Homo sapiens: one gene and its partners. The protein of the gene in region 3 purifies or fractionates together with the protein of the main gene of each other region. This does not show direct contact. Each region holds a gene or a part of one and is shown on either strand. Other genes may lie near its edges.

Region 1 (7,033 bases), on a different chromosome or scaffold from region 3:
TTTTATGTATACTAGTATATTTGTACTAGTAAAATTTATTTAAATTGTAATGTTTTATTTTAATCAAATCTTGATAATTTTACTAGTATGATATTATTAAAAATAAATTTATGGCCGGGCATGGTGGCTTGCACCTGTAATCCCAGCATTTGGGAGGCCAAGGCAGGTGTCTCACCTGAGGTCAGGAGTTTGAGACCAGACTGGCCAGCATGGCAAAACCCCATCTATACTAAAAATACAAAATTTAGCCAGGCGTGGCAGGGGGCACCTGTAATCCCAGCTACTCGGGAGGCTGAGGCAGGAGAGGAGAATTGCTTGAACCCAGGGAGGCAGACGCTGCAGTGAGCCAAGATCACACCATTGCACTCCAGCCTGGGCAACAAGAGCGAAACTCCGTCTAAAAATAATAATAATAATAATAATAATAATAAATATATAGGAGATAATATTCCCTCTTTTGAGAGACTTCTCTTAATGGTATAGCAATTTGAAGGAGCCAGTTATTAATGTTAGTGGGGCGACTGGTCCTGTTGTCACTCATGCCCTCACTTCCTTTCTTGCGAGCTTAAATTACAAACACTGGCACTATTTCCACTTCCTTGCACCTCCCTATACTCACCTGGCAAAACCCAAGCCTGATTAAACCCAGCTATGTGCTTAATCTTTGCCTATACCTCTGCAGCTAACTCTAGTTGGAGAAAACACCTAACTTTGTTGAGCGAACTTATTTTAAATATGCAACGCTAAACCTTAATATGGGCATTTGATCCTCCTCCTTTTGGTTTTTTTTTTTTTTTTTTTTTGAGATAAGGTCTCGCTCTGTTGCCTAGGCTGCAGTGGCACAATCAGGCCTCACTGCAGCCTCAACCTCTCAGGTTCAAGACATCCTCCCACCTCAGCCTCCTAAGTAGCTGGGATTACAGGCACGTGCCACCACACCTGGCCCATTTTCTTCTTAGTCATGAACTTTCCTACTTTTGAGGATAATTACTTTTTATCATCTTGACTCAACTTGGTTCCCTTCCCTCCCTTGATGACTTTACCTCATAGGTCATGGGAAAATAGATGCAATCAACAGAAAACTGCCTTATCGTTCAACCACCAAATCCCCCCCTTTTTTTCCTTTCCTTTTCTTTTTTTTTTTTTTTTTTTTTTTTTGAGACAGGGTCTTGCTCTGTCAGCCAGCCTGGAGTTCTCTGGAGTGCAGTGGCACAATCAGGACTCACTGCAGCCTCAACCTCCCGGGCTCAAGCAATCCTCCCACCGCAGCCCCCTGAGTAGCTAGGACTACAGGCATGACCACCCTGCCTGGCCAGTGTTTTTTTGAATTTTAGTAGAGATGAGGTCTGACTATGTTGCCCTGTCTGGTCTCCAACTCCTGAGATTCAGCGATCCTCGCGCCTTGGCCTCCCAAAGTGCTGGGATTACAGGCGTGAGACCCTAGGCTTGGCCCCACCACCAAACCTTTTAGCCACCCTGCATCTACATCCACATACTCTGCTTCTTTGCCTGTCTAAGGGCAACCTTTCCATTTATGCTGAAGATCCTGGGCCCTCTTGCTTCCCCTAGGACTACATTCCTACAATTAGAGCCTCTCTCCTCATTAATTTCTCCACTCTGCTAGCTTATTTGCCATAAGGCATGCAATCATGTTTTACTATCACCCATCTTTTAAAAAAATAAAAAAGCCAAAATCCTCTCCTGATCCCATGTCCTCATTCCATCTACTGCCCTATTTCTCTGTTCTTTTCTACTGAAATTGCTTTATTAAGGTCGCCATCTTACAAAGCTTGTGTTCCCTCTCTCCCCTCACCTGTGCCTATCAGTAGCATTTGGCATGATTGAACATTCCCCTCTGCTCCAGGCACTTTCTGTTCTAGGCTTTGATATTTCACGCTGTCCTGCCTTACTAGCACTTCTTTCTAGTCTCCTTGGTTGGTTCTTCATCTGCCAGATCTCTAAATGTGGAGTGCCCCCAGGGCTCTCTTCCTGGTTGTCTTTTCTCTAACTATGCTCTATCCCTCGGTGATCTTATCCACCCCATTTTTTTTTCTTTTCTTTTTTCTTTTTTTTTTTTTTTTTTTGAGTCACAGTCTTGCTCTGTCACCCAGGCTAGAGTGCAGTGGCGCAATCTCGGCTCACTGCAACCTCCACTTCCCAGGTTCAAGCGATTCTCCTGCCTCAGCCACCCGAGTTCCTGGGATTATAGGTGCCTGCCACCATGCCCAGCTAATTTTTTTGTATTTTTAGTAGAGACAGGACTTCACCATGTTGGCCTGGCTGGTTTCAAACTCCTGACCTCAAGTGATCCACCTGCCTTGGCGTCCCAAAGTGCTGGGTTTACAGGCATGAGCCACTGCGTCCGGCCCATTCCCATAAGTTAAAATTTACCCAAAAGCTAATGCCTCCCAAACCCACATCTCCAGTAGGACCTCTCTCTCCCCTGGGATGCTGACTCGTGTATTTAAGTGCATTTTCAACAACACGGTCAGGTCCAAGCATTGACAGTCTCTTCCCCATCTCAGTACATTGTTCAGGCCCAGTTTGGATCACCCTGGATTCCTCTCTTCTTCACCCACAGCCATCCATTCTTGTCAGCACCTCCTCCTAAATAGACCTGAAATCTGACCTCTGGGCACCATCTCCAGCGCTGCAAACCTGTGCCACAGCACTCTCATCTCCTGACCACTGCCTCAGTCTCCCTATTGGGCTTCCTGCCTCAACTCTTACCTCACAATAGTGTTCTCTTGGTAGTTGGAGTGATATTTGAAACTTAGGGAAAAGAAAAAAAAGAGAGAGAGACCAGGCGCCAGGCGCAGTGGCTCATACCTGTAATCCCAGCACTTTGAGAGGCCGTGGTGGGTGGATCACTTGAGGCCAGGAGTTCAAGGCCGGCCTGGCCAGCATGGCAAAACCCCGTCTCTACTAAAAAAAAAAAAAATACAAAAATTAGCCAGGCGTGGTGGCATGTGCCTATAATCCCAACTACTCGGGAGGATGAGGCACGAAAATCCCTTCAACCTGAGAGGTGGAGGCTGCAGTGAGCCAAGATCACGGCACTGCACTCCACCCTGGGCGACAGAGCGAGACTCTGTCTCCAAAAAAAAAAATAAACTTAGAACGTGTCTTTCTGCTCAGTGCCCTCCAATGACTTCCCTCACATCTAAAATAAAATCTAAACTCTTTCCAGTGTAATGAGAGAAACTTAGTTTGACCCTGATTTGGAGGGAAATTTTTTTAAAAAGAAAATAGCTAAAATTGGAGAGAAGGAAATTTCATTATGGGCCACATATTAGGTGATATTAGGAAATTATTGCTTTTCCTGAGTACACTAATGCATTAGAGGATCATGTGGGGAAATCTCTTATTTTTAGGAGATGTGGCTGATATATTTAGTGGTAAAGAATCATGATGTCTGGAACTTATTTTCAAATTCTTTCACAAGAATTATATATTAATATAGAGAAACCAAATATGAGACAATGCAAATGACTATTGAATCTTGGTGGGAAATATGAGTGTTTATTACATTACTTCGACTTTTCTTTTTTTTTTTTTTTTGAGACGGAGTTTCGCTGTTGTTGCCCAGGCTAGAATGCAACGGCATGATCTCAGCTCACTGCAACCTCCACCTCCTGGATTCAAGCAATTCTCTTGCCTCAGCCTCCCAAGTAGCTGGGATTACAGGCATGTGCCACCATGCCCAGCTAATTTTGTATTTTTAGTAGAGACAGGGTTTCTCCATATTGTTCAGGCTGGTCTGGAACTCCTGAACTCAGGTGATCTGACTGCCTCAGGCCTCCCAAAGTGCTGGGATTACAGGCGTGAGCCACCACACCCAGCCTACTTTGACTTTTCTATAGGCCTGACTTTTTTTCTAATAACAATTTAGGGGAAGAAATTAATTTTTTTTCTATTTTTTTATTTTTTTTGAGACAGACTTTCGCTCTTGTCACCCAGGCTGGAGTGCAGTGGTGCGATTCCGGCTCACTGCAACCTCCACCTCCCAGGTTCAAGTGATTCTCCCGCCTCAGCCTCCTGAGTAGCTCAGACTACAGGTGCCCACCACCACGCCCAGCTATTTTTTGCAGACATGGGGTTTCACCCTGTTGGCCAGGCTGGTCTTGAACTCCTAACTTTGGGTGATCTTCCTGCCTCGGCCTCCCAAAGTGCTAGGATTACAGGCATTAGTCACTGTACCTGGCTGAAATTCATAATTTTTGCTGTGGCCTTTACCTCTCTACTTGACCCAGCCTCTGGTCACATCTCTGATCTCCCTGCCCTCCATATACCTCAGTGTTCACCATACTTCTACCATAAGGGCAGTTTCTGTCTTTCAACTCATGAGTCCACCTCAGGGCTCCTGTTCTTGGCGCTCGCTCTGCTCGGAGTGCTCTTCACCTGCTGCCTCTTTCCTCATTCACATCTCGGGAGGCCTTTCCCAGCCATCCTAATTCAGGTAGCATCCCCACCCCACCCCAGTTGCCCAGTTTTATTTTTGCATCATAATACCTGACGTCATATCATTCATTTCTAGCTTTCTTGGGTAACTGTTTCACCTCTGCTAGAAGATCCTGGAGGGCAATCACCTTGTCTGTTTAATTAATCACTCTCTAGTGTCTGGAACAGTGCCCAGCACAATAAATGCTTGTTGAAGGAATGCATGAATATATGCTGATAACTAACATCTGCACCTTCAGCACAACTCTTGAACACCACCTCATATCATTCAACCTCCTCACTGGGTTCTGCCACAGGTGCCTCACTTCATGCATTTTTGTATGTTTGGTGAGATTTTGAAGGTATATTAAGAGAGTATTAGAAAAATCAAGAATGCCTGAATTCTGCCCTGCCAATCATCCCCTTCCCAGAGAAAACCTCAAGGGTGGTTCAAGGAACAAGTAGAAAATAAGGTACCACTTTATTACTAGCTGAAATAGTGCCTGATATCTTGATGCAGAGCATTCTGGTAAAGTGGATTGGAGACTGTGGCTTAGGCTTGCACCACAAGCAAAAGCTTGAGCACAAACCAAATTTCAGGATCTCTGCTATTCTCTACTGGACACATGGCCCATGATAAAAGGCATGAGAAGAATAGAGCCAAGCCTGGTGGCTGGGCCCACCTTGAGAAGGATGGCTGTGGCCCTCAACTGCATGGCTGGGTGGAAGAGGAAGAAAAAAAGAACCCAACCAAAAAACTTGACTTTTGTTTTTTAAACGGAGTCTTGCTCTATCGCCCAGACTAGAGTGCAGTGGCATCATCTCCTCGGCTCACTGCAACCTTCGCCTCCTGGGTTCAAGCAATTCTTCTGCCTCAGCCTCCCAAGTAGCTGGGACTACAGGCACACACCACCATGCCCGGCTAATTTTTGTTTTTTTATTAGAGACGGGGTTTCACCATGTTGGCCAGGCTGGTCTAAAACCCCTGACCTCGTGATCCACCTGCCTCGGCCTCCCAAAGTGCTGGAATTACAGGCATGAGCCACCCCGCTCAACCAAACTTGACTTTTAAAGCACAGGAAAATGTAACCAATCAAATTAACATTGTTCTTTCAGGAAAGAACAAGAAGGGAGGTTTTCCTAGGCTGGGAAGAGAAGCTCAGTGTTCCCTTCCCCCGGCAGAGACCTACAACCATCCCCCTAAGACCCCGTCACCTTTTGCATTCCTCATCTTAGGGACCGTACCACACTTCACCAGCTGTCCAAGCCAGAAACGTTGGCATAACAAAGTTTCCCTCTTCCTCAACTCTCATGTTCACACTGATTTCACTTCCTAAGAAGGTTTTGACTTCATCCATACTGCCTTAGCCCCGCTCCAGTTCAGGCCACAGCATTTCTGGCTCATCCCCATCAAATGCATCTTGCACATTGTGCAGGTAGACTACTCATTCTGAGTAATGCAAAATTGGTCACCCACTGCCTTGCTGCAAACTCTTCAGAGACTGCCCTTTTCTCTGAGAGTAAAGTTCATACTCTTTAAAGGCTTACAAGGCCTGGTAACATCACGGCCCTGCTCACTTTCCCAACATTGTCTCTTACTATCTCCTACAAACAGGTCCATGTTCCAGCCACACTGAACTTAAGTTCTTCAAACTCCACCCTCATTGTTGCCTTGCTGTGCCATTCCTCTACCTCTTTCTCTACCTTCTCTTCATCCTTCAGATCTCAGCAATTAGAGACATCACATCTTTATCTGAGAACTGCCCTGTGCAGATACTTGCTGAAGTCTAACCTAGCAGTCCCAACTTTGATGGCCATGCCTACCTATGTTCTCATGACAGCCTGAGCCTCCTAGCGTGGGCATTTACCCCACTGTATTGCAATTGCCTCTTTCCTTGTCTAACTTTCCCACTCAGATGTGAAATTCCTTAGAGCAGAGACCCATTCTTTCTAAGTAATGGTTCTAGTCCTATGGTCTGACCAGAGTACATTTAATGAATACAAGAACAGCAAAAAATATTCAACGTATCTTCCTTGTTTATTTGACTTTTGGCTCTAATAATAAGGTCTCTCTTGCAGGCAACCAAGTTGTTAAAAGCCTTGAAAGGCTACATTAAACATGAGGCAAGAAAAGGAAATGAGAATCAGGTGAGTAATGTTTTTCATGTTTACCTGTTAGCTAGCAAAATAATCATATTTGGTTAATGGGCAATTAACACACAACTAGTGATGATTTAAGACATGCTGTTGGCCAGGTGTTGTGGCTCACGCCTATACTCCTAGCACTTTGGTAGGCAGTGGCAGGCGGATCACTTGAGTCCAGGAGTTCGAGACCAGCCTGGCCAACATGGTGAAACCCCGTCTCTACTAAAAATACAAAAATTAGCCAGATGTGGTGGCGGGAGCCTGTAATCCCAGCTACTCAGGAGGCTGAGACAGGGAGAATTGCTTGAACCCGGGAGGTGGAGGTTGCAGTGAGCCAGGATCGCGCCACTGTACTCCAGCCTGGGTGACAGAGCAAGACTCCGTTCAAAAAACAAAAAAAAAGATATGCTGTTTATTAAAAAAGAGATCATTATTGGTAATAGTGCCA
Region 2 (7,033 bases), on a different chromosome or scaffold from region 3:
AGGTCCTTAAACACTCCTAGACATACTTTCACTTCAAGACCTTTTAATTTTGCCTAGAAAATACTTCTCCTGGATAAAAAGCGCTTTCCCATGGTTCTCTTCTCCACTTCCATAATGACTTCACTCAAAAGGCTTTCATCTCAGGGAGGCCTTCCTTAACTGCCCAATCAAAATTCTACCCCATACCTATTTCTAGTACACCCCATCTCCCCTTTTTAAAATCTCTTCCATAATACTTATCATCTTCTGGCATATTATGTATTTTTTTAAATGCCTTACATGTAAGTTCCACAAAGAGAATTTAGTTTATTATATCCAAAAGCCTACAACACCAGGAACATCATAGCAATGCAAAATATATATGCATACGTGGAACTTAGCTTCCTCACCTGATAAAGAGGCATATTATTTCCCTTCTTGCCCACTTCACTTTGTTTTAGTAACCCTCCTGATATCTCTATTACAGTATTTTGAAGACCCGTAAGTTTATAACACCTACCCTGTGTGCTTTCCTCCCCATATGCATTTCATGCAGGTAACTTGGAATGCATAATAGGAGCCCACTAAACAAAACAAGAGTGTGACACAAAGACAGTTTGCCATGGATCTCATACGGAATGTTGGAGCAAATATTTTAAGTGAAATTGCTCTACATCACCATACTAAAAACAGTGACTTTGGTACCTGTTAACTCTAGTAAATTAATCATTATGTTTGAATCTGATACTAGATTTAAAATGAATTTACTTACTAAAAAAGTGCAATTTATCATTTTAGTAACAATTATCTACTATCAACTATACCTTAGTCTGCTCCATTTGGTCTTTGGCCTTTGACCTTGTAATCCGTACAGAAGATGGAATAGCCTTAGAACAGTCAAAAGAAGATGAACTTAAAATATGAACTGGTAAAGGTTTACTTCCATATCTTATTACAAAATAAAGTTCCCATTTTAAAGTTAAATTTTATCCTTAATCTCTTATAGCAAAAAGATACTTAAATTCCTTTTTCTGGTTCTAGCTTGATTTAAATTAAGTTAGTAACTTCAAAAATTACTCACATTTCTCAGTGAGAAAGAAATTTCAAACCGTATTTTCCAGGTATTGGAATCATCATTAATATGAGCTTCTATCCTCTCTTAGTTCTCCTGCCTCTCTGACCAGTCCTCAGCCTGGTACCTGGCTTCTGCCTACCTAAAAGTGCTCTCTAGAGCCCACTTTTTCATAATTTTATATATCCTTATTGGAATGGTCTCATTTAGTCCTACAGCTTAAACACTCATCCATATTCCCAATATTATATCCTAAATCGACATCTTAGCACCAATTTCCATCCTTCTTTCCAAATTTTTACTAATATCTAGGTGGCCCACACAAGTTTAAGATTTTTAAAAAGGTTATTAACATGCACCCACTTAAGCTTGTTCCTTATCTTCCTTATCTCTTTTAGCAGCAGAGCTTCTCTCTGCTTTTTCAATTTCCTTTACCCCTCACCATCTACTTGGCCACCAGTCCTGTCAAATGCCTTTATTTAGATGTCTTACACCTATTTTTTCCTTTTAAAACCCACTGCCCCTTTCCATCTATTCTATTACAATAGTCTCACAATTGGTCTCCCTATCTATAAATGCTTCCCTTTCCAGACTAAAATCTTTAGGGCTATGGTATTTTCCTGAATTATTAATTTGACAACGGCACTACCCTTATTTATAAACTTCTCCTGATTCTGCAAAACCTACAGGATAAACACCAAATCCTTTGCATAACATTGTTCAGCCTGATTCTACCAATTTTCCTAGTTTTATCCTATCTCAACTTACCTACAGCTATCTTAAGAGACCTGATTTTCATTCTTCTGAGCTACTATTATGTCATTCCCACCTTCTACCAACCAGTTAATAATGAGACTAAGGGAAAGGGGTTAGTCACTTAATGTCTTGAAGAAAATACCAAATAAAAGAAACTATTCCTTTATATTAAGACACTAAATTTACCTTTTTTGGCTCAGCTTTCACAGCATTCTGGTTTGATAAAAGAAAACAAGGCATATCAGGTCTATAACGACCCACTTTAAATATTCCTCGTTTAGCTTTCTCTCTCTGCTCTTTCAATTTTTGAAGTTGCTTTTCTTCTTTGTATTTTTGGAGCATCTGTTTTCGTTGATCACCTAGAATAGTTTTCATTGCCCCTAGGCAGAAAAAAAACCAAAACCACACAGTATATAAAACATTTCAGATGAAAAGTTATGCAAATGTATAAACAATTATTTTTGTGTCATTTCAACTGCTGCTAAAAAATGCTTTCAGGCCAGGCACGGTGGCTCACGCCTGTAATCCCAGCACTTTGGGAGGCTGAGGAGGGCGGATCATCTGAGGTCAGGAGTTTGAGACCAGCCTGGCCAACGTGGTGAAATCCCATCTCTACTAAAAATTCAAAAATTAGCTGGGTGTGGTGGCGGTCACCTGTAATCCCAGCTATTCGGGAGGTTGAGGTAGGAGAATTGCTTGAACCCAGGAGATGGAGGTTGCAGTGAGCCAAGATTGCGCCCCTGCACTCCAGCCTAAGCAACAGAGCAAGACTCCGTCTCAAGAAAAAAAAAAAGGCTTTCAATAAGCCAGGCACAGTAACACACCTGTAGTCCCATCTACTGGGAAGGCTGAGGTGGAAGGATCATTTGAGCCCAGGAGTTCAAGTTCAGCTTGAGTAACAAAGCAAGACCTCTCCGCACAAAGGGAAATGCTTTTAATATTTCTTGTTAATTCTTTAGCACTCTAACCACAAGTTATTTCAACCCCTAGTCTTTTAAAATTTGTATTCATTTTGCCTTCATGTGTTCAAATATTAACTGCTTGCTATGTAATAGGCATTTATTACTTCACTTTTAAATTAATTAACTTGTATGATAGCCAGCATCCAAGCTGCCCTCTACTGATCCTCACTTCCTGGTAGTCTTGCCCTGTGTCATCCCCTCACACTGAATAGGGCTGACTTGTGTGACCAAGAGAGTATTACAGGAATAATGGAATATGACTTCTAAAACTAGGGTAGTGTTTGCCTTGCTCTCTCTTGAAGCGTCGCTTGCTCTGGGAGAAGCCAGGTGCCATGTGGGGCCTTAAGAAGACTCAAGCAGTCCTATGGAGATGTCCACATGACAAAGAACTACAGCCTCCTTCCAAAAGCCAGCATCAACTTGCTGTTCATGTGAGTCAGTCATCTTGGAGGCAGATCCTCCAGTCTCAGTTAAGGCTTCAGATATATCTCTGGATGACATCTTGGCTGCTATCTTCAGAATCACCCAGCTCAGCCATACCCAAGTTCCTGACCCACAAAAATTGTATGAAATAATCAATATTTATTGTTTTAAGCTGCTAAGTTTTGGGATAACTAATACAATTATAGGTGCTATTTATTATAATAGATGTACTCTATTTCTTCTCACCTACTCAAGGACATTCTTCCAGCAACTTATCCTCTTACTCATCTATTTTTTCCTCTACTGAATTGTTGCCATTATGAAGTTACAAGCATGCGGTAATTTCTCCCAACCTACATCCTCATCTAGCACTTATTTTTCTAGTCCCATTTAAGGCAAAATTCTTCAAGAGAGTTACCTGTATCTCTACTATCAACACTTTTATTTATTTATTTATTTGAGGCAGAGTCTCGCACTGTCGCCTTGGCTGGAATGCAGCGGCGTGATCTCGGCTCAATGCATCCTCGGCCTCCCGGGTTCAAGCGATTCTACTGCCTCAGCCTCCCGAGTAGCTGGGATTACAGGCGCCCACCACCATGCCCAGCTAATTTTTTGCATTTTTAGTAGAGACGGAGTTTCACCATTTTGGCCAGGGTGGTCTCGAACTCCTGACCTCATGATTCACCCACCTCGGCCTCCCAAAGTGCTGGGAGTACAGGTGTGAGCCACCACGCCTGGCCTTTTTTGAGACAGAGTCTCACTCTGTCGCCCAGGTTGGAGTGCAGTGGCGCAATCTTGGCTCACTGCAACCTCCACCTCCTGAGTTCAAGCAATTCTGCCTCAGCCTCCCTAGTAGCTAGGATTACAGGCATGCGCCACTGCGCCTGGCTAATTTTTGTATTTTGAGTAGAGATGGGGTTTCACCATGTTGGACAGGCTGGTCTTGAACTCCTGACCTCAGGTGATCCACCCACCTTGGCATCCCAAAGTGCTGGAATTACAGGTGTGAGCCACCAAGCCCAGCCTATTTCCAACACTCTTTACATTCCCTCTCTTTTCAAAATTATGAAAAACTTCTAATATACACACAATTATAATGAACCCCATATACCTATTACCAAGATTCAATAATTATGAACATTTTGCTGCAGTTGTTTAAAACAAATTATGCTTAGAAGATTTCATCTCTAAATACTTTAGTATATACTTCTAAAAAATAAAGACATTTCTGGAAGGGTGCGATAGCTCACGCCTGTACTCCTAGCACTTTGGGAGACTGAGGTGGGCGGTTCATCTGAGGTTGGGAGTTTGAGACCAGCCTGACCAACATGGAGAAACCCTGTCTCTACTAAAAATACAAAATTAGCCAGGCGTGGTGGTGCATGCCTGTAATCCCAGCTACTCAGGAAGGCTGAGGCAGGAGAATCACTTGAACCCGGGAGGCAGAGGTTGCGGTGAGCCGAGATCGTGCCATTGCACTCCAGCCTGGGCAAGAAGAGCAAAACTCCGTCTCAAAAAATAAAAATAAAATAAAATAAAGACATTTCCTTTCATAGCCACGATATCATCATCACACTTAACAAAATCAGCAGTAATTCCTTGTTATCTATTACAGGGTCCAGATTTAAACGTCTCTATTTGTTTCAAAGAGGTCTTTTAAACCATCTGTTTACTTAAATCAAGAACCAAGTAAGAGCAACACGTTTTATTTGAATGTCTTTTTAAATCTCTTCATCTAAAACAGATCCTCCTCCCCACTCTTCTTTTCATGCCATTGTCTTACTGACAAAAGGTAGTCAGTTTTCCTATTGAATGTCTTTGCAAGCTGTATTTGTTTATTTACTCATTCCTCCAGGCTCCATGTTTTCTACAGACTACAAATTATATCTAAGGGTTTGATTATACTCATCCATTCCAATCTTTCACTCCCTGAACCTCACTCCACCAAAACTATTCAAGATCACCAGTGACCTCCACAGTGGTGAAGTCCAAATTCTCACCTCTATTATACTTGATCTAACAAGCAGTACTGACTAACATAGTTAATCAGTCTCTCCTCGATATGCACTTTTCTACTCGGTTTCTAGGATAGCACGTTCTTCTGGTTATCCTCTTACATTACTTTGCATTGTTCCTTGGTTCTTTACTAGTTTTCCCTTGTCTTTTTTTTGAGACGGAGTCTCACTTTGTTGCCCAGGCTGGAGTGCAGTGGTGTGATTGGCTCACTGCAACCTCCACCTCCTGGGTTCAGGTGATTCTCCTGCCTCAGCCGCCCAAGTAGCTGGGACTACAGGCACGCGCCACACCCAGCTGATTTTTGTATTTTTAGTAGAGATGGGGTTTCACCATGTTGGCCAGAATGGTCTTGATCTCTTGACCTCGTGATCCACTCACCTTAGCCTGGGGTACTGGGATTATAGGTATGAGCCACCGCATCTGGCCCCTTGTCTTTTAATACTTTAGTATCAACTAAGTTATTGCAGTAGTCTACTTACTGCTCTCCCTGATGTCATACATACCACCCTATAATCTATTCTCAACACAGCAGCCAAAGTGATCCTTTTTTTTTTTTTTTTTTGAGATGGAGTCTCGCTCTGTTGCCCAGGCTGGAGTACAATAGCGTGATCTCAGCTAACTGCAACGTCCACCTCCTGGGTTCAAGCGATTCTCCTGCCTCGGCCTCCTGAGTAGGTGGGATTACAGGTGTGTGTCACCACACCCAGCTAATTTTTTTATTTTTAGTAGAGATGGGGTTTCACCATGTTGGTCAGGCTGGTTTCGAACTCTTGACCTCGCCATCCACCCGCCTTGGCCTCCCAAAGTGCTGGGATTACAGGCATGAGCCACTGTGCCCGACCTGATCCTTTTCTTTTTTTTTTTTTTAGGAGACAGGATCTCCATGTGTGGCCGAGGCCAGAGTGCAGTGACTTTTCACAGGCACCATTGTAGCACACTGAAGCTTCAAACTCCTGAGCTCAAGATTTCCTGCCTCAGCCTCTGGAGTAGCTAGGGCTACAGGCCTGACTCCAAAGCGATCCTTTTAAAACATGAATCAGATTACATAAACACCCATTAATGGCCTCTCATTTCAGAGTAAAAGCCAATGTCCTTATAATGATGGTCCTTAGGATTCTATGTAATCTATCTCCCTTGCTCATTCTTTTCTACCCAGTTACCTACTTGCATTCACTAAAACATATCAGGCACACTCCTACCTCTAAGCCTTTGCAAACGGGAAATAAAGGATATTTTAATAGCATACTGAGATAGTTAGACTTTAATTTGAAAGATTTTTGGTTAAGAAATGGAGCATTTGAGAGGACAAGATGAGAAAGGAACCACCCTTTCTCAGATAAAAAATGTTTGGTTCTTTCTGCCATTCCCTATTTATCCTAGCATTATTTCAATGCCATCTAGCTCCTAACGCCTGCTATATGAACACAACAAATAGGAGTAGGGTGACTCCTGACTAAACACAAGTCATTTCTCAGTTTGCTTTCTCTTTTCTGTAGCATCCTTTGCCTTCTAAGATGCTCTATTTTCATCTTTTTCTGAGATTATTCCTTTCTTCTTTAGTTGGTTCTTTCCATCCTAATGGTCCCAATCCTTCTGGGCAAACTGCAAGGATGAATTCTTTGCTCTTTTCTTACTAATGTTTCCATTGACAAAGTACTCTCATTTCATGGATTCTTTAATTATTCTATTTTTACATTTCTTATCAATTTATCTTGTCAACACTTATCCTACCCAAGCTCCGTAAGAACTTTAGGATTTCTATGAAGCAATATAGATAATAAAGTGTTATAATACTCCACAGGTAAAGGCTTTTGCCTTAAAGACA
Region 3 (5,120 bases):
AAAATCATCAGTAATGCCATTTCCCCCTAATTCTCTTCTGTTTTCTATTCCTTTCCTCATGCCCTATTCTTTCTTTACAGCAGTGCTTTTAGACGTTGCCTAGCTCTAGAGAAGATTTCCAAAGTCAAATGTTTTTTTGTGTGTGTGTGTGTGTGTGTGTGTTTTCTTTTTGAGACAGAGTCTCACTGTCGCCCAGGCTGGAGTGCAATGGCACAATCTCGGTTCACTGCAACTGCTGCCTCCTGGGTTTGAGCAATTCTCCTGTCTCAGCCTCCCGAGTAGCTGGGATTACAGTCACATGCCACCACACCCGACTAATTTTCTTTTTTTCTTTTCTTTTCTTCTTCTTTTTTTTTTTTTTTTTCTTTTGGAGACAGTCTCGCTCTGTCGCCCAGGCTGGAGTGCAGTGGTGCGATCTCAGCTTATTGCAACCTCTGCCTCCCGGGTTCAAGCAGTTCTCTGCCTCAGCCTCCTGAGTAGCTAGGATTACAGGTGCCCTACCACCACCACACCTGGCTAATTTTTTTGTATTTTTAGTAGAAACAGGATTTCACCATCTTGGCCAGGCTGGTCTTGACCTCCTGACCTCGTGATCCACCCACCTCGGCCTCCCAAAGTACTGGGATTACAGGCGTAAGCTACCATGCCTGGCCCAGTTTTTGTATTTTTAGTAAAGATGGGGTTTCACCATGTTTGCCAGGCTGGTCTTGAACTCCTGATTTTAGGTGATCCACCCACCTCAGCCTCCTAAATTGCTGGAATTATAGGTTTTTTTTTTTTTTTTTTTTTTTTTGTATTTTTAGTAGAGATGGGTTTTCACCATGTTGGCCAGACTGGTCCTGACCTCAGGTGATCCACCTTTGTCGGTCTCCCAGGTGTGCACCACCACACCAGGCCTTGGCTCCTACTTTGAAATGCAATCTTGTTTGTTTGGAGACAGAGTCTCCTCTGTCACCCAGGCTGGAGTGCAGTGGTACAATCACACCTCATAGAAGCCTCCAGCTCCTGGGCTTAAGTGGCCCTCCTGCCTCAGCCTCCCAGGTGGTTGGGACTGCAGGCAAGCACCTCCATGACTGGCTAATTTTTTTTTATTTTTAGAGACAAGATCTCCTGTTGCCCAGGCTGGGTTTGAACTCCTGACCTCAAGAAGTTCTCCCTCCTTGGCCTCCCAAAGTGCTGAGATTAAAGGCTTGAGCCACTGCACCCAGACTGAAATACAGTTTTAATTTCTTTCACTCTTAATTAGTTATCTTACTCCACAGATCTCAGTAAAATTGGCTCTTTGAGTTTCCCTCGCACCCTCTGATGTAGGTGTTAATAAGAGCAGGTCAATGGCACATAGGACAAGAAGAAAGAGTGTCAATCCTTGAAATGTTGACAAATTCCATTCAGGCCTAGGAGCATGTAATTGTAGGAGTCAGCATTATTGGCTCTGTTGGGTATATGTGATCTCAAAGATTGACCTTTTTTTCCATCTGTTTTCAGATCTGTTACCATTGGGATGATAACCTGAGGACCCCCACTGGAAATCTCCCATCTTTTGAAAAACCTGGAAGTGAGGAGTGTGCACGGATGCTGAATGTTTGGGAATGAGAGGATGAGTGAGTGAGGCTTGAAAACACACCACATTGAAAATCCTGCCACAGCAGCAGCCGCAGCCGCCAACAGCAGCGCTGTTAGTGAGCTAAGTAAGCACTGACTTCGTAGAAAACCATAACATCGGCCATCTTGGAAAAGAGAAAAACAATGGAGTTACTTATTTAAAAAAAAAGAAAGAAAGTTATCTCTTCCCAGGAGAGGCTAGAAGTAGCTTTTCTGTCTTTTGGCCAGTGCCGAGTGGAATGCCTGGTTTGGGGGAGGAGGAGGGACTGGGTTCAGCTGTGGTGCTTTGTTGTAAAAGGCAGCCTGGCCTTTGCTACTGAGGAGAAAGATGGAGCCTGGGTCTCAAGCCCACCTTCGCTGTACCTTTGCCACATGGTACTGTATGCTTGCCAGCTAGAAGGAGGGTCAGGGATTTTTTACAGTCTGAGAATGAGTGTGTGTGAGTGAGGCGGTATCCACATTCTCAACTTCAAGTCATTGCAGTTTCTTTTTCCCAGAAAACAAGGGGTTAGATGTTGCATTTCATAAAACTAACCGAAGTTTTGTTTACTGATGCAGCACAAGAGATGTAAAAAAAAAAAAAAAAAAAAAAAAAAAAACACACACACAGAGGAAAGACGCTCTTTAGGTTTTGTTTTGTTTTTTTTTTTTGGTTTTGTTTTTTGTTTTTTTTACTCTAGGGAAAACACTGACGAATGGTCAGAGCTCCTATCCTGATCTTTTCATCAAGGCGCCTTTCCTAATAATATGGTTCAACTGTGAATGTAGAAGTGGGGGGGAGGGGGGAGAAAAAGAAAACTCTGGCGTTAGAGGATATAGAAAAATATAAGTACAATTGTTACAAATAACGCAGACTTCAAAAACAAAAAAATCACAACCCAAACAAACCAAAATTTAAATGATCAGAATTGGCAGCACAAAGAAAACGCCCTCTCCTGACTTGTATTGTGGCAGTCTGAACGCCCCCAGAAAATTGTGCCAAAGAGTTTAGAAAAATAAATATACAATAAAAGTAAACACATACACACAAAACAGCAAACTTCAGGTAACTATTTTGGATTGCAAACAGGATAAATTAAATGTTCAAACAATCTGATAAAATAACCATTTGGAAACTGCTTGGCCTTCTGTTCTTTTATTTGATTGACTACAATGCGGTATTGGTCTCTTGCTGCACTTCAAAAGCAACCAACAAAACAAAAACAAAAAAAAGTGTGTGTTGTGTGAATACACACACACACTAACTAGAAGTCTTGTGATGAAAATGGCACTTGGAAAAGGTTTTATTTTTCCACTGAAGTTGAAGGTTAATAAAATGGTGTCAAACGTCCCCTGGTCACACACTTGAATATTTTTTTAGAAGTGTGATGTGGTATGATTACCATAAATCAGACTTAATTATTTTCCCTTTTACAAGGGAACAGGGCATCCTGAATTTTAGAGCCTTTCAGCAATAAGAAGGGATGTTGGTGAGCTTTGATCCTCTTTTGGTTTTGCAGTTGTTAGGAGTTTTTGCTGGCATTTTGAATATGCTGCTTTCAGAAAAACCAAGGAAGTTTTAAAATTGCTTCCTGGTCCTTAGAGGACTAAAAACAAGACCCTCATTCCCACTTTCATTTCCACTCTAGCAAAAACTGGGCTTGCGTTTTTCTCCAACTCCTCGTTTATATCCTCCCTTCCATGTCCAAGCCTTCCATTCCTAAGTGGGATTGGCTCAGTTTTGCCCATCCATATGGCAGCATCTCTAATAGCTCTTGTACAGGGTATCAGATATTGTGCCTTTTGGTGCCAGGTTCAAAGTCAAGTGCCGATCTATGAACCAGTGTACAAAAAAAAAAAAATCCAGGTATTTGAAGGAGAGACGCTCCATTGTGAATAAAGAGCTCATACCAGCTCCTAAGCCCTATTAAGAAGAGGCCTGGTCCTCTAATGCCTTGTTTCCATTTCAGTTGTTCTTTGAGAGACAGAATGATGTACTAACCATTCGTGATTATTAAGATAGGGTTGGGTCAGGGCTTAGGGAGGGGGCAGAAATATTGGGGATAGAAAAAAAATCTGATCATTCCTCAGTGCTACCCATTTCTGTCCTGTGTGGGCTGCTTAGCTAGACAGCAGGAGAATAAAGTACACCGAGAACCATAATGAAAAAACCTTCCGTGTGTTTTGTCATGTTTTGTTCCAGGGAAGCAGTTGATGAGTGCTGTTACTAATGCTTTCTCCCAGATCCATTCAGTGGTGGAGAGGAGGAAAATGGGCTGGTTGGATGTGGTCTTGGTGCCTTGCAGTTACTCTGCACTGGTTATGCATTTAATTCTCCTCTTTTCTAGTTAACCTTTTGCCAGTGGGTTTTCCATAGTCTGGGTATTTGTCCTTATATCAGTTATACCACCTAAGGCAACTGGGTGCAAAATGCATTCTGTTCACTCACTGTCTGGGCCTTCCCCACCCTAGTCTTGGCACATTCCTTCAAGAATGTAGTTACCGTCTGCTTGGGAAGATGTCAGTGCAAATGTGAAGATAATGGGCATCGGACTAGGCTTTGGTTTGCCACAAGTGGCAGCTGCCTGTATCAATTACATTTATTAATTTTGCTTTTCATTTTTCCCAGTTCTCCTCACCCCCCCTTTGTTGAAATGTTGGACTTGCTGTCAGAGGCAACTGTAATATTGCCTTAGGGACTTGTGGAGAAGGGGAATTGCTCAGTGTAGTGTTTTAACTTTCAGAACCAAGCAATCTATTTACTCTTACAAATATTTAAGAAGTGTGTTAGTCCAACTTTAAGAAAAATCCAAACTCATCAGCTTTTGATAGCATCTTGGTTTTTGAAACAACTTCAATCTGTAATTGGCATTCAGAATGCCCTTGGCATGCCAGTCTGTGATGGCATTTAAGACCTGTAAAACACTTGAGCCCAACTCGATTAACCAAAACCGATAACCACCACCTTTATCTTCTAAATAAAGTCCGCTTTATTTTTATTTTCAACATCTTGCTGCTTTTTTTTTTTTTTTTTGTCCCAAATGGTGTCACCTCCATGGAGGTGAAATGGTTTGAAAGTCAGAATGTGTGGTGAGAGGTGTTTGTGTATGTATGTGTGTGGGGAAAAGGAGGGACACACATCTTGAAATGGATATTACATAGTGTAATGTGATATAGATGAAACAGTGTCCTACAAATGAGGTAAGGAAAAAGTATGCATGGAGGATGTTTCGTGTTTGGAGAGTTTGAAGCATTCCTCATCAGTAAAACAGGAATACTGACTAAGGTTGTTCTGCAAATTAAAACATAAAATCTCAGTGTTTACCATTTTTCACTTCAGGTGGGCCAAGCTGGCACCTTGGAGGCCAGGTGGAACTGCAGGCTTGCACTGTGTTTCTGAGTGTTTGTATTGGGACCAGGTATACGGTAATGGGGTTTCTTGTGGGAGCAGTTGCTCCTTCTCTGCCATTTGATGAACTAATTGCATTCTTTTCTCAAATCTCACCTTCAGTGGAGAAATGTTCTCAGTGAATCATTGT

What was found. Proteins that work in one complex are often made in the same cells at the same time.
Region 1: the proteins of KPNB1 (region 3) and NUSAP1 purify together in Homo sapiens (affinity purification with mass spectrometry; 4 studies listed by BioGRID and IntAct, with this or other methods). This does not show direct contact.
Region 2: the proteins of KPNB1 (region 3) and DLGAP5 purify together in Homo sapiens (affinity purification with mass spectrometry; 4 studies listed by BioGRID and IntAct, with this or other methods). This does not show direct contact.

Annotation. Positions count from the first base shown.
Region 1 is NC_000015.10:41,335,867-41,342,899, forward strand, and holds part of NUSAP1 (nucleolar and spindle-associated protein 1), read left to right. Parts: intron 1-6,519; coding exon 6,520-6,588; intron 6,589-7,033. UniProt on the Homo sapiens protein: Microtubule-associated protein with the capacity to bundle and stabilize microtubules. May associate with chromosomes and promote the organization of mitotic spindle microtubules around them.
Region 2 is NC_000014.9:55,181,567-55,188,599, forward strand, and holds part of DLGAP5 (disks large-associated protein 5), read right to left. Parts: intron 2,188-7,033; coding exon 1,994-2,187; intron 867-1,993; coding exon 804-866; intron 1-803. UniProt on the Homo sapiens protein: Potential cell cycle regulator that may play a role in carcinogenesis of cancer cells. Mitotic phosphoprotein regulated by the ubiquitin-proteasome pathway.
Region 3 is NC_000017.11:47,680,919-47,686,038, forward strand, and holds the end of KPNB1 (importin subunit beta-1), read left to right. Parts: intron 1-1,485; coding exon 1,486-1,486; 3' UTR 1,487-4,587; downstream 4,588-5,120.